Linked DNA regions of Homo sapiens: region 2 is linked to region 1. Evidence: fine-mapped expression QTL. Tissue or cell type: whole blood. Region 1 holds a variant in brackets; the other region holds the start of a gene. All regions are shown on one strand. Distances are between the middles of the regions.

Region 1 (7,770 bases):
CGGCCAGCACTCGACTTTGCCTAAAAAAGGAAGCAGCAGGCTGAGGCTGAGGAGCTGGCGGCAGGAACAAGGGAGAGCTGTGTCCCCGCCGGCGCCCCCCACCCCCCCTGCCGGGGATCTTGGCAGTGGAGGTGCTGGCTGCGCTCCACAGACCTCAGACCTCGGCTGGGACCAGAAATGCCTGGTGCTTCCGCCTGGGCCCGGTGGGGGGACTTTGGGTCCCCAGAGTGCAAGCTGTACCACTTCGAGGGGCCTCGCCAGGCCCCCCAGCCCCCAGTACACAGGGGCTGCCGTGGAGATGACGCTGAAGGCCGCAGCCGCTGGAGGACCTGGGGTCTGACCGGAAGCTGGCTGCAGACCCTGCGGAGGCACGTCCAGGTAGTCAGGCAGGGAGCTGGGCCGAGGGTCCCCCACCCTGGGGAGGCTCACAGCCAGTGGCCCGCTTGTCCCCCACCCTCGCCCAGCAGGCGGGCCACAGTCACACCTCAGCCAGCCTTGCAGGGCTGACGGGGAAGTTTCCCTCACTTCTGGAAAAAGTGAGCGGGTCTTCTTGGCTGTGACTCAGGCCCTCAAGGAAGCGGCCGCCCTCCTCCCTTCAGCTCGCCATCAGCGGGAGAAGGCACAGGAGGCCTGGCCTCCACCCAGCCTGGGCCGAGCTCAGCCACCTGCCTTGCTCCCGGCTCTGCCTGGAGTCCCTCCAGCTAGGAGACCCTCCCCATCAGCTCTCCCCGTGCCCCTCAGTCTTCAGGACTCATTCTTGTGTCCTGCCCTCCCCCCGCTGTCTCCACCCCGGAGGAGGGACGTGGACAGAGGGTCCCAGAGAGCATGGGGTCAGCCAGAGGTGCAGTGTCAGGGCCCGGGCCGGACTTGAGGCAGACACCGGAGGAAGCACAAATATAACAGCCGGAACCCTCCACTCTCCAGGGAGAAGGGCCCGGGGTAAGAGGCAGAGGCAAGGACGGGTCAGGCCAGATCACAGTGGGTGCTGGCCCCGAGCCCTCTGCCTCCTGCAGGCACAGCCCCTGTCTGATCCTGGTGGCCTGGGGCCCCATGGGGTGGGGAGCAGCCTGGTTTGGCTGCGGCCACCCCGCCCCCACGGTCTGGGCCTGGGCTGTGGGAGTCCCTGTGCCTCACTTCCCGGAGCCAGCCTGCCCTGCCGGTCTGTCTGCAGGCAGGTGGAGAGAGTTCCAGGAAGCTGGGGAGGCTGCTGTCACCCGGGCACCGCCCCTGCCCCCACCCGCCTTTGGGAATGCTCCCTCCTCCGCACAATCCAGGCTTCTGCAGAAGATGAAGGGCCTTTTGTCCCCAGCTGGCTGTGGTCATGTTTGACCCTGGGTAAAAGGGCAACTCCTGAGGCCTCTGACCCCACCCCTGACCCGAGCTGAGGGCAGGACGCCCAGGCCCGCACCCGGCGCCTTTTGTTGCTGTTTTCACGTATCTCACAAACGTACTCAAGCACACACAGGAGCAGATGGACGGGGCGGTGAGGGGCAGCAGTGGTGAGGGGCAGCGGCGGTGAGGGGCAGCGGCGGTGAGGGGCAGCGGTGCGGGCCTGAGGCACTGCTCTGGGGTGTGCCTGAGCCCACCCCACAACAGTAAGTGGGGCAGAGCAGGGGTCACCAAGAGAGCAGGGCCCACGCAGCTCCTAGACTCAACCTGCTCACTGGGGTCAAGGACAGGTCTTGGGGGCCTCGGGGGTCACTTTTCACTTCCCAGGAGCCCAGGCCTGCCCCTCTGGCCCCAGAGCTGACCCCCCTCAGTCCCCCGTGCCAGCAGCAGCTGGGGTGGCGGGTAGACACCTGGCGGGTAGCAGCCTGGGTAGGGGTGGGAGCTGCACCATCTGCGTCTGTCCATCCATCCCTCGTCTGTGTGCTGGGCACAGCCGCGCCCCAGCCTCAGTGCTGGGGACACACAGGCGCCGGGCCAGCACTGCCAGGCTAGGAGGGTGGGCGGTGAACAGCTAGGAAAGATACGGTCTACTTGTTTTCCCTGTGAGAACAGGGGGTCACTGGGGACTCGCACGCAAGGGGTACCCGAGGAAGAGCCTTCCAGGCAGAGAGAAGGAACCGCGAGTGCTGAGAGCAGGGTGGGGTGGGCAGGAGGGGCCTGCGCCAGGACTGCAGGGGCAGAGCAGGCTGGGGGCCTTCGGGAGGGGTGGCCGGGTGGAGGGTGTTGCCGGCCTCGACAGGGGCAGGAGGTTCGTCACAGCGAGGACAGAGCCCGGCCCGGTGGGAGCCGGAGAGCAGCAGGCCTGAATGACCCAGGGTTTCCTAATAGCAGGGCCCCTTCCTTGTGTGGGTCCCCTCACTTTGCCTCTCTGCTGGGACATCCTTCCCTGAAAGGGAGAGGAGGACCACATGCTGCCCCTTCCCCAGACACAGTCCAGACAGGCCCAGGCCACAGCCCTGGGCAGACGCAAAACTCCCAGGGGCCTGGACTGGGATAGGGAGGAGGCAGCAGGGAGGGACTGACCTATGTCCACACACCACAAGGGACTCCCAGAGGCGGGTGGGGCGGAGCTGGGAGCAGGGGCCTTAGCCCTCAGACCAGCCCACTCACCCTGGGGAGTTCCTGCCCCACAGCCTGCCCAGCTTACAGGCCTGGGGGCAGGGGCAGGCCAGCACAGGCCGGAGGGACAGAGGGAGCCACATCTGAGGGGTCCCCCAGCTGCTCACACCGTCTGAGGCTGTGCTTGCCAACAACTCTGCTCCCAGGAAATATTTTGCAAATCAGGAAATGACACCGGGCAAGGTGGGAAGCCCACTGCATCCAGTGGGGTGGGGCCCCTTACTGCCTCCCCTGCTCCGGCATGACGTGTGACAGGGACGCAGATGGGACACACACAGCCACACACACACACTCCGGGCTCCCATTTGGGCAGGGCAGGGGCCTCAGCCACCGGGAAAGAACGCCAAGCAGAGGTCCCCACAGCCACCCTGCAGCTCGGCTGCACCCAAGGAGTTCAGGCCCCTGGGCCAGTGGAGAGCTGTGGTAGAGACTGCAGGAAGAGGGAGGCTGCTCCTGGCCCTCAGGCTGGGGGAAGGGGCTCTGGGGGAAGGGGTGTAGAGGCACCCTCAGGGTGGGGGCGGGCCTGGGGACCCAGGGTCCTGAAGTGGAGGGGTTTCGGTCAGGGACACCATGCTGGGCAAAAGTTGGGAGAGATTCATGGGGTCCAGGTGGGGTCCTGCCCCTGCAGGGGCTAGAAGGGCTGGGCAAAGGCCAACTGTATACCTGGGGCCTTGAGGAGGGGAACCCTGGCTGGGGGCCCCACCTCCCCCTCATTTCATGCCCCCCTCCTGGCTTCCCAGATGGTGGCC[G/A]ATAAGGGAGCTGCTTAGGATCCATGGAAGGGGCCAGGCAAGAACCCGGGGGAAGAACCCAGGGGCCTCAACGCAGGGCCCGTTCTGTCCTAGGGGGTGGGGCCCCTGCCTTCCAACGTGGGGCCTCTTCTGTCCTGGGGGTGGGGCCCCTGCCTTCCAACGGAGGGCCTCTTCTGTCCTAGGGGGTGAGGGGGTGAGGGGGTGAGGGGGTGGGGCCCCTGCCCCGGCACTCGGGCTCTGGCCTTCCTGAATCGCCCCTTCCTTGCTTCTCTTCCGCCGGCCAGGCCTCTGCTCTCCGGGGCTACGGCCTCCCACAGGCACGTTCCTACATCCCTCTGTGAACCGCCCACAGGCCCCCCCACAGGTGTTCCTCTGTGAGCTGGTCGGGCGGCCGGGGCCGGGGCCGGGCTTCGCTGCTCCGTGCCTTCCACCTCCCTGGCGGTGCGGGGCCTCAGGGTGGGCCTGGGAAGCTGGAAACACCTTTGGAAACAGCCGCCTGAGGCAGCTGTGGACAGAAGACCCTGCCCAGCAGCCAAGGGAGCTGGCCTCTCCGCTCAGCCTCCCCACCCCCACCAGGCCCAGCTGTTGTTTTCACGGCTCCGGGACCAGGCGGATCCTCAGCCAAGAGCTTCCCAGGAGAGCCCTCATCTTCAACCCCTAGTGGCGACCAGAGCCAGCCCGGGCAGGAGGGGAAGGAAGGCGGCCGCGGCCCCGGGGAAGCCATCCTGGCAGCTTGGCCACTGGCCCGGCTCCTGTCTGACCAGGAAAGGCATCAAAGCCGGACTCGGATGGAGGCTGGAAAACCCCGAGACTTCTGCTGGACTCGACCCAGCCACACACCAGGCTGTGCTCAAGGCCACGGAATGAGCCTTGACCCTGGCCCCAGACGGAGCCCAGACCTTGCTGGTCACAGGCTGAGCCCTGCTGGCAATATGATGTACTAGATCCCTTAAAAGGCCTTCCAGCAACAACCAACTTCTGGATGAATTACTATGAGCGTACATTTTTAATAGACTGTTGTGTTTCCAAGAAAGTAAATATCTCCGAGTCTCCCCCAAAATTAAACAGCAAAAATAAATAAGGCCAGGTGGGGTGGCTCATGCCTGTAATCCCAACACTTTAGGAGGCTGAGGCGAGAGGATTGCTTGTGCCTAGGAGTTCGAGACCAGCCTGGGCAACATGATGAGACCCCGTCTCTACAAAAAAATTTAAAATTAGCTGGGTGTGGTGGTGCACTCTAGTCACAGCTACTTGGGAGGCTGAGGCAGGAGGATCACTTGAGCCTGGGAGGGCGAGGCTGCAGAGAGCTAGGAGCTCACCACTGCACTCAGACTGGGCGGCAGAGCAAGACTCTGTCTCTAAGTAAACAAACAGACAGAGTAGTGTGGAGGCCTGGATGATGAAGGGAAGTGGTTGGGAAAGCAGATAACTCCCTGGACACACACAGGGACAGAGAGCCAGCCTGCGGCCAGGGAACAAGTATGTTTCTCTGCCTAGGGGCTGCTTAAACCAGGGGTCTCAAGGGTCACTGAGGGGGCCGAGGGTGGTCTCGCCTGGAAAAGGGGAATAGTCTCTGGAGGGAAGCATCCCCAAGTTGGACCTCAGAATTGTCTCCGATAACAGCTGACAATTAAACAACCAAACGTTCAGAGAAACACCATGCTACTGATGAGAATCGGCAGAAACACCAGTCACAGATTTAGACCCCCAAAGACTAGGACACTGGAATTATTTAGTACAGAATATAAAATAACTATATATGAAATATGTTTAAGAAGTGGAAACTGTAATCTAAAAAGCAAGCATGTATCAAGAGACCATAAAAAAAATCAGACAAATCTAAAACACAATCAGATGTAACTTTTAGATATGCTAACCTTTTTTTTTTTTTGAGATGGAGTTTCACTTTGTCACCCAGGCTGGAGTGCAGTGGCACCCTCTCAGCTCACTCCAACCTCTGCCTCCAGTGTTCAAATGATTCTTGTGCCTCAGCCTCCTGAGTAGCTGGGACTACAGGTGTGCACCACCATGGCCAGCTAATTTTTTTTGTTGTTTTTTTGTTTGTTTTTAAGATGGAGTCTTGCTCTTGTTGTCCAGGCTGGAGTGCAATGGCATGATTTCGGCTCACTGCAATCTCTGCCTCCTGGGTTCAAGCGATCCTCCTGCCTCAGCCTCCCAAGTAGCTGAGGTTATAGGTGCCCACCACCACGCCCAGCTAATTTTTTTTTTTTTTTTTTTTGAGACGGAGCCTCGCTCTTTCGCCCAAGCTAGAGTGCAGTGGCGTGATCTTGGCTCACTGCAAGCTTTGCCTCCCAGGTTCACGCCATTCTCCTGCCTCAGCCTCCCGAGTAGCTGGTACTACAGGTGCCCGCCACCAAGCCCAGCTAATTTCTGTATTTTTTAGTAGAGACGGGGTTTCACCGTGTTAGCCAGGATGATCTGGATCTCCTGAGCTGGTGATCCGCCCTCCTCGGCTTCCCAAAGTGCTGGGATTACAGGCGTGAGCCACCGTGCCTGGCCTGGATATGTTAACATAATAATTTAAGATAAAATGAATGAGTTAATCAGCAGATTAGACGGAAGGGAGTAATTTGATGAGGGGGTAAAAGAAAATGGTGAGGATATGGAGAAGGAATTCGTGGTGAAACTGGACACAATTGTTGAGGGATTTCCAGAGCTGATGAACGTTGTGGACCTGTGGCTTACACCAAACAGGGTGGGTGTGAGCTCGGCACAGCTAGGACGCGCTGGTGAGACCAAGGAACACCAAAGTCAGTGAGGAGATCTTAGTGTCTCCCGGAGAGAGCCGACCGAGGCTGGCGCATGTCTGAATGCGAGCCTGGCCATAGGCTGAGCCCGGCTGCCGCCACCCCTGGGCTTCTGGAACCCTGGGCTTGGCCGAGCGTGGGTGTCTCCCCTGGGAGCCCCAGAGCCCTGGACGATGGAGGCCGGGACCTGGGCAGGCGCGGGAGGCCTTGGGCTGGGGCCTGCGCCCCTCCTCTGAGGGCTGCCTGCCGGGCTCTGCCCTGCCCTGCCCTTCCCTCCCCTCTCTTCCCCTCCCCTCTCCTCTCTTTCCCTCACCTCCCCTCTCTTTGCCTCCCCTCCCCTCCCCTCCCCTCTTCCCCTCCCCTCCCCTCTCTTCCCCTCCCCTCCCCTCTCTTCCCCTCCCCTCCCCTCTCTTCCCCTCCCCTCCCCTCTTCCCCTCCCCTCCCCTCCCCTCTCTCCCCCTCCCCTCCCCTCTCTTCCCCTCCCCTCCCCTCTCTTCCCCTCCCCTGCCCTCCGTGGCGGGGGCGGGGCTGCGGGCGGGGGAGGCCGGGGTCGTAAGCCGGGAGCGCTGCGCGCCCAGCCAGGAAGGGGCAGCGGGGGCGACCCTCAGTTTTCCGGGCCGGGCCACGCGATGGGGTCGCGCGCGAGCTCGGAGGCCTCCCGGGGTTTCGCAGCGGCCGCCGGGTCACACCCAGGCGCAGAGTTGCTCGTCCTCGTCGGGGCGCCCCGGGGGGCGGCGGGGTCCGGGGGTCCCAGCGGGCGGAGGCAGCAGCGGGCGGAGGCGCCGGGCTAGGCGGGCGCGGACGGCCGAGGCGAGCACCAGCAGCGGCGGCAGCGAGAGAAGCCCGAACACGATGAGCGCCGCGGAGCCGCGGTCTGAGAACAGCGCGCGGCACCGGGGACCCGGAGCGGGGTGGACCTGGGGGCCGGGCGGGCCGTCAGTGGGGGGCGGGGCGGGGTAATGGAGGGCTGGGGGCAGGGCAGGGTGATGGAGGGGAGGGGGCTGGGCAGGGTGATGGAGGGGAAGGGGAGGGGTGGAGAGGGGAGCGGGCGGGATGATGGAGGGAAGGGGGAGAAGAGGGGAGCAGGGCAGGGTGATGGAGGGGAAGGGGCAGGGCAGGGTGATGGAGGGGAAGGGGAGGCGCGGAGGAGAGGGTGTGGGTGGGTCAGGGTGATGAAGGGGCGGTGAGGGCCGGACGGTGAGGGATGGATGGGCGGGAGCAGGGTGGAGCGGGGAGGGGAGAGAGAGCGGGGTGGAGGAAAGGATGCAGGGCCACGGCAAAGGGAGACGGAGGGGTGCAGGGCGGGAGAGAGGAGTGGGCGATAGAGATGAAAGAGCGGGGCGGGGCGGTAGAGGGGCCGTGGCGGGCTGAGCAGGGCGGGAAGAGGGAGGGGGGAGATGGAGGGATGAAGGATTAGGGCCTGGGCGAAGGAGAGGCAGGGCGGGGAGAGGGGAGGGGGCGGGCCGCTGTGGGCCAGGCAGTGCTGAGGGGTGAACAGGAGATCCGGGACGCAGCAGGTAAAGGGCTGAGCAGGGTCCCTTGAGGGGAGGCTCAGAAAAAGCGCCCACTGCCGCGTTCTGCCCGCTTCTGCCCTCCTGCGCCCTCTCATCACCAGCTGGCGCCAGCCCCCGTGCCAGCAGAAAGGGGCCCGGGGCCCAGAGCAGGCCACAGCCCACTCTGCAGGT
Region 2 (6,845 bases), 99 kb after region 1:
CATGATGCTGTCTACCCACTGGGCAAAGGGCAGAGTAGGAAGCTGGGTGCCACCCCTACCTCGGCGGGCTCTGCCCTGGGCATATGCCTGTGTGCCCCCACCTGGCCTCCCACTGCTGTGGTGCCTGGCAGGGTGCAGGATGGGGGCCCTGGTGGGACATGGTCAGGTCGGCAGGGCCTGATTTGGGCTTCCAGCCATCTGGCCGGGGCCTCCCTGCGTCCTTTTCCTGAGCTCACGGTGTGGGTTGCGGGTACCCTGGGAGCCCTCCGGGCCTCTTTCCAGAACAGTGGGTCTGGGTTACCTGGGCAGGCCTGGTCTGGGCACAGAGGGACAGGGACACAGCTTGGCTCTGGGGCCCAGATGGTCACAGGGGTGTCCACGTGCTCCAGGCCTAGGGCTCACTGTGGGGTCAGGGTCAGGAGACAACCTGGGGTCAGAACCTAGAGCGGGAGGGTCTCTGTAGCGAGACACGGGTCATTGCTGGCTTGGGGGGGATCGCAGCTAAGTCTGGGTTCACCGGGGCTGAGATCACAGGGTTGGGTCACTCATGTTTCCCCTGATTTCCTGTGTTCCCGTCATTCTGGCCTTGGGCATCCCCAGGGCCCCCTCCCAGGAAGAACTCGGGGGTGTTGAGCCCTGGCTGCCGCATGAGCAGGTAACACCTGGGCAGGTGGAAGGCAGCCAGGATGCCCAGGACACAGAGCAGGAGGGCGCCCATCTGCACGGCGGGCCTGAGGACCACCTGCACATTGGCCAGGAGGGGCACAAAGGAGACCCAGGTGATGAAGTAGGCCAGCATGGCAAAGGTGAGGCCACGGGCACGGTTGTAGCAGCCCGGCTGGCTCCGCACCAGGAAAGTGCCCAGGAAGCAGAGAAAGGCCAGCGTGGCATTGGTGGCGTGCGCTAGGCCGAAGCTGACCCAGGAGCGTGTGCGGCAGTGCACCAGCGCCTCCGTGGGCAGCATGTGCCAGTCCGTCACCACCTCCGGCGGGAAGGCCACCAGGTACCAGGTGCACAGTGCGACCTCCACCAGCATGGCCAGCAGCACCACCAGCCAGGCCCAGGGCCCCCGCAGGCAGCCACTCAGCCGGTCTGCCCAGCTCAGAGGCAGTTCTGACTCCACGAAGATCTCGGCCGCCTGCAGGAAGAGTGTGCTCAGGCAGCCCGTGAGCGGGAGGTGGGACAAGGGCTGCTGGGCCAGGCATCGGGCAGGGCTGGGCTGGCCAGGGAACAGGAGGACGCTGAGGCAGACCAGGCCCAGGCACACCAGGCCAAAGCAGGCCAGGGGCCCCCCCGAGGCCTGAACCAGTGGGCTGTCCCGATGGTGAACGAACAGCCCCAAAGCAGCCAGCACAAGGCCCAGCGCCAGGCTCAGCAGCAGGAGCAGCAGCAGCACAGCCGGCTCGCCCCATGCCAGGAACCGAGACCTGCGGCGGAAGCAGCGTGTGCTTCGCTCCGGGGACCACTCATCCTGGCCACAAAAGGTGCAGGCGATGTCGTCTGTGAGAGAGGAGAAGGGCGCTGGGTGTTCGTCTTGTACCCTGTGGGCTCTGGTCTCAGAGTCAGGACTTGGCAGGACCCTCCCCTGCTGCGTTCCCACCCCCGCCTGCCGGGAAGGCGGCTCACCTGGGTTTTGCCGGTAGCTGCCCGCCTCGCAGTCCACACAGTCGTAGCAGCAGGAGTGGAACCCCTTGACCCGGCGCACCTGGCCCTCCTGGCACTGCCGCGAGCACCGGGACACGGGCTTCTGCGCACAGGCCTGGGGTCTGGCTCTGCTCGGCTGGGCATGCCCACGGGAGACTGGAACGGCCCCCACCCCCAGGCTGCGCCCTGCCGCGGGGGCTACCACGGGCACGCCTGGCACACCCACCCTCACCTCACCTGGTTGTCAGACGTGTGCCAGCGGATCTTCAGGCGCTCTGTCCTGAGGCTGCCGTTGAACCTGCCCACGTCGTGGAGCCTGGGCACTGAGCCCTGCCACACCCACAGCTTCAGGTCGTACTCCATGTCCACGTTTCCGCTGCTGTCGAACCGCAGCGGCAGCCCGCCCACGTGGAAGGTCAGGTTGTACATGTTCTCCAGGAGCTGCGGGCGGGGGACGGGGCTGAGCCGCCAGCCACCTCCAGCTCAGGCGTGGTGGCCGTGCCTGGTGGCCTGGGCACATGCAGAGGACAGCACACCCCCATCTCCCGGGCTCACCTGCCAGGGCTTCACGGGGTCCTGCGCGGGGCAGCCTGAGGCGTTGCACTGAAGAGTGTTGTGCAGGGCCTGGGCCACGCTATACACAGCTGCGTAGACAGAGAACGTCTGGTGGTGATTTAGCCCTGCGCTCACGTTCTGCAGCGTGATGCAGTCACACTGCGGGCAGCGCTGGCCCACCACGTCCTCCTCCAGACCCTGCTCCCTCTCGCCCAGGGCAGAGCAGAAGGCCGGGTCGGTGGCCAGGGCCAGGTGCGTCTTCACGTACTGGGGGAACTCGTGCAGCTGGGCACCCCTCTGGAGGAAGCCAAGCACCGTGCCCATCTGGGCCATGCCGGGCAGCCCCATGACCAGGTCAGAGGTCAGCCAGGCCTCGCTGGCCACCCACACCTTGGGCGAGAGCCTGCTGCTGATGCTGTAGTTGAAGAGGGCGTGGGCGGCGTGCACGGAGGCGAACAGCAGCACCACCTGCACGCTGCTCTGGTTCACCTGGTGCAGGACGTCCTGCACCTTCCCCAGCCGCGAGTCATCGGCACGGGGCAGCGGCACCAGGCCCTCGTGCGCGATGCAGATGCCGCGTGCCGCGGCCAGGGCCGAGAAGATGCTCAGGCCCTGCCGGCCGTACTCGTCGTCGCTGCCCAGGGCGGCCACCCAGTTCCAGCCGAACTCCTGCAGCAGCTCCGCGGCGGCCGTCAGCTGCACACGGTCGCTGGGCACGGTGCGGAAGAAGGAGGGGAAGGTCTCCCGGGCGCTCAGCAGCTCCATGCTAGCACCGTAGCTGACCTGCAAGGGCCAAGAGGCATCTCCTGACACAGGGGCTCCCACGGGCAGGGCTGGGTGGGGGTGGGTGATGGTGGGGGGCGCCCACCTGGGGCATGAGGAAGAAGCTGAAGAACTTGCCGGTGACCATGGCGAGCTCTGACGAGTGGGGCCCGATGACAGCCAGCACACGGGGCTGGTACTGCGTGTAGTTGCAGTAGGCGGCGATGTCGCGGCTGCCTGCCTTGGCCAGGAACATGAGGCTGGGCTTCATGGCCACCACAGGCTCCGAGCACGTATCAAAGAGGTCGTAGCCCAGGCGCAGCCCGGGCAGCAGATCCGACTTGTTGTTGATCTCCTCCACGGCCATTTTCATGGCCAGTGCCCAGAGCAGGCCGTTTGAGGAGAACCTGGGGCCACACAGAACCGCAGATGGCCACCTCGGCCCCAGCTCAGGAGCACCCCAGACCTGGTCACCCTGACCCCGACCCAGGCCGTCCCACCTCTGTACCTGGTGCACACAGGGCTGCTGGGCCGTGTCCGGCTGCGGAGGCCAGCCTCCTCGGCCTCGCCCAGGGGGAACAGCCCCCCCAGCACGTAGTCCCCCTTCATCCTAAGTTGCTGTGACAGGCACAATGGGGCCCCCGTCCCAGGGTGCAGGAGAGCCCAGAGGCTGAGGCCCAGGACAGCAGGGCCCAGCATGGCAGAGGCAACTTCCAACAGGCACGGCAGGTGGCTGCCCCGACTGGGGCCTCACATGGAGTGAGCCCGGGGCGGGGAGCGGGCAGAGGATTTGTTTAGCAAAACCCTTGCCATCCTCACTTGCCACACCCTGGGGCCCCAGTGGTGTCCTCGCTTCCTGGGCCTGAAAGTTTGTGCGCGTCAGACTCTGCCTGAGGCCACTGCCAGGCTCTATGGCCAGCGTTGACCGGCAGGCAGGCTCTGCTCAGTTGCTGGCCGTGGCCTTGTTCCCTGCCTGTGGCTGAGCCCCTTGCCACCCCCCGATTCCTGGAGTTGCCCAGCAGGCTGTGGAGAGGAGAGGGGGCAAAGGGGCCTCCAGGGCTCTGAGGTCTCAGCTGCGTGGGAGGGATGCAGAGACACCCAGCCCTGGGGCTTTTCATAAGCACAGAAATGCCTCCTACCCAGCCCCGGGAGCTTCTGGCTCCCACTCAAGGCTGTGCTGGCCGGAGCCGGGGGCAGCAGGGATGGGCCCCCTAGGCCTGCAGACCAGTCAGGCCAGTGGGCAGCCGGCCAGCCAGGCCTCCACCCTGCAGCTGGGGAGGGCCCTGGGGTGGTGGTGCTGCCCTCCCAGTCTGCTTGGGAGCAGAGTTCCTTGAGGGTCTCAGCCCTTCTGCCAGAGTCTGACGCCTGGAAGCTGTAGGAACCGCATGGCCAGCTGTACTCACACTGCTGACCCCCGTCTGGGCCACTCCTGCGTGGCAGGCACACAGGTGGCTCCTGCTGGGGGTAGAGTTTGTTTGCCAGGGGGGCACGCAAACAAGGGAGGAAGGGCCACAGGCAAATGAGCGGCAGCTGGAGCAGCACCAGGTGTGCAGGGCCGGGACTCCTCTGCCTCTGTGTTGCTTTGGGGGTGCCCTCGGGGACACAGCAGACTCCAGGCGCAGGCCCTCCCAGGGGAACTGGGGGGCACTCAGCTTCAGCTAGGGCCTGGCAGACCTAGCAGATACCAGGAGGTGTGCCCTGGCTGGTGCTTCTTCCCCATGGTGTTGTGAGGAGGACCTGTGAGGGACACACACTACCACCGCACATGCATATGGCACATGCTGAGCACACGTGAATATGGCGCACATGCGAACCTGGCACACGAGCACAGGAATGCGGCACACACACAAACGGCACATGCGCATGGTACACGCGAATGGCACATGCACGGCACACGTGCATGGGACACGCACGGCACACGCAAGGAACACATGCATGGCATGCAAACGGCACACATGCATGCCACACGTGCACAGCATACATGCAAATGGCACACGTGTACGGTGCACACGAATGGCACATGCGCATGGTACACACAAATGGCACACGCACGGCAAGTGCATGGCACACGCGCATGGCACACACAAAACGGCACATGCAAATGGCACACACACGGCACACACAATACACACGGAAACGGCACATACACAAATGCCACACATGCATGGCACGCAAGCAAACGACGTGTGGCACACGCGCATCGCACGCAAATGGCACGTGCATGACACAAATGGCACATGCAAACAGCACACACATGGTACACGCAAAGCACATGGCACGCACATGCGCACAGCATACGCTCACAGCACACACGGCATACACAAATGGCACACATGCACGTGGCACACGTGCACGGCCAACACGCAGCACATACGTGCATGGCACATACACGAAAACAGCACACGCTCACGGCCAACACGCATGGCACATGCAACTGGCACCTGCACATTGCACAGATGGCACACATGCACATGGTACATGCAAACAGCACATGCAAACGGCACACGTGCGGCACACGCAAATAGCACACTCGCACTTGGGACACGCAAACGGCACAAGCATGGCACTTGTACAGAAGGCAACACCCGGAGGGAGCCCTGCCCTGGGGCCCACGCAGACCCAGGCAGTTCTCCCGGCCCATACTGCAGTCGGCAGCCTTTGCCGGCACCATATGCAGCTCCCACAGACCCTGAGGTGGGGGTGACATCCAGGAAGACTCTGCTGAATTGCATCCCCTTTCTGTCCAGGCCACTGTTGTGGCTGGGAGTGGCCCCCACCTCCACGCACACATCCCACGCAGGCCTCTCCTCTTTTGCATGGAGAGGCGGATGTCTGCCCTCCCAACCGTCCTCCCAACCCAGCCTCTTGGTTCTGGGTGACTCTGTCTCTCTCTTGTCTCACCTGTACAACAGGCATAGTGATGGGACCTCTCTGGGAGAATGGGCACACAGCAGCCCTGCCTCCAAGGCTGGCCTTTTCTCAGGGTGTTTGTTGAGCCCTGGGGCTAACACAGCCCCCTGAGCCTGGCAGTGGGGCCTCAGCTCCCTTGGAGTTAGGTGCACCCACCTCAGCTGTGTCCCTGGGGTGAGGGCCCTCCCCACCCTCACTGGGTGCCCCTGTGTCCCCCTGCAGGAAATCAGGCACCCAGTGCACCCCAGCGTCTCCCTCCTGGGAGGCTGTGTGATTTATTAACGTTGGAAGACATCACATAGATTGCACTCTGGAAGCTCGCATGTCTGCTGGGCCGTGGGGGCCGTCCCTCTGCCACCCCGAGGTGCTGGGGTCCACTGTGAAGAGCCAGTGGCCAGGCCCCAGGCACTGGATGGTGGCTGGGCTGGTTGTGGCTGTCTGGTAGCCTTTGGCTGGGCCACAGGGTCCAGACCCTCCTGTTCCGTGCCCCACGGGTCTCCTGAGCACTGTGGGGAGGGGGCATCAAGGGGCACGGGGGAGAAGGGACACAGCATTTCACTGGGTGTAGCAGAGTCCCAGCTCCTGGGGGCCTTGGGCTGGGCTGGGCTGTGCAGACCCACGGCCGCTGCGGGAGGCGGCCTGCTGCGTCCCTCGGGGAACTGGTGCCGTGCAGGGGCTACGGAGGAGGCTGTCCCAAGGGCGGGGACTTCCTGGGCCCTTCTGTGAGGAGCCTTGGTCTCAGCTTCCGGCTGTCCTGCCCCCAGTCTGCCTGGCACGCTGAGGGGCAAACAAGGCAGGAGAGGCGGGGAGAGCCCCACAGTGCCCAGACTGCTGTTGAGGGTTTCTGCCAGCCAGGGCATGGAGGGCACTGAGTCCCCTGGGCTCAAGGCTGCCCACCTGGGCAGACACGGGGTCCCAGGCACGGGCCTGAGATGAGGACACATCGGCTGGCAGAAAGGAGAAAGGATGGAGCC

The links. PIP is the estimated chance that this variant, and not a neighbour inherited with it, causes the effect.
Region 2: it holds the start of TAS1R3, and the variant in region 1 is fine-mapped to the expression of TAS1R3 in whole blood (TOPMed, PIP 0.95).

Annotation. Positions count from the first base shown.
Region 1 is chr1:1,426,786-1,434,555 of GRCh38, reverse strand. TMEM278 (transmembrane protein 278) reads right to left here. Exons shown (of 2, transcript NM_001146685.2): 2 at 4,301-7,002. The coding sequence ends at 6,769. It overlaps LOC107985729, which reads right to left and starts at 1,323. Exons shown (of 4, transcript XM_017003066.2): 1 at 1,268-1,323; 2 at 485-593; 3 at 154-360; 4 at 1-20. The coding sequence starts at 1,323. It overlaps LINC01770 (long intergenic non-protein coding RNA 1770), which reads left to right. Exons shown (of 2, transcript NR_125996.1): 1 at 1-368; 2 at 3,894-4,399. RefSeq lists a silencer at 1-107 and an enhancer at 1,444-2,187. The variant G/A (reference allele first, on the strand shown) is at 3,318.
Region 2 is chr1:1,328,161-1,335,005 of GRCh38, reverse strand. TAS1R3 (taste 1 receptor member 3) reads right to left here and starts at 3,726. Exons shown (of 6, transcript NM_152228.3): 1 at 3,470-3,726; 2 at 3,068-3,368; 3 at 2,200-2,982; 4 at 1,882-2,085; 5 at 1,627-1,747; 6 at 1-1,500. The coding sequence starts at 3,660. The coding sequence ends at 542. CPTP (ceramide-1-phosphate transfer protein) reads right to left here. Exons shown (of 3, transcript NM_001029885.2): 3 at 6,110-6,845.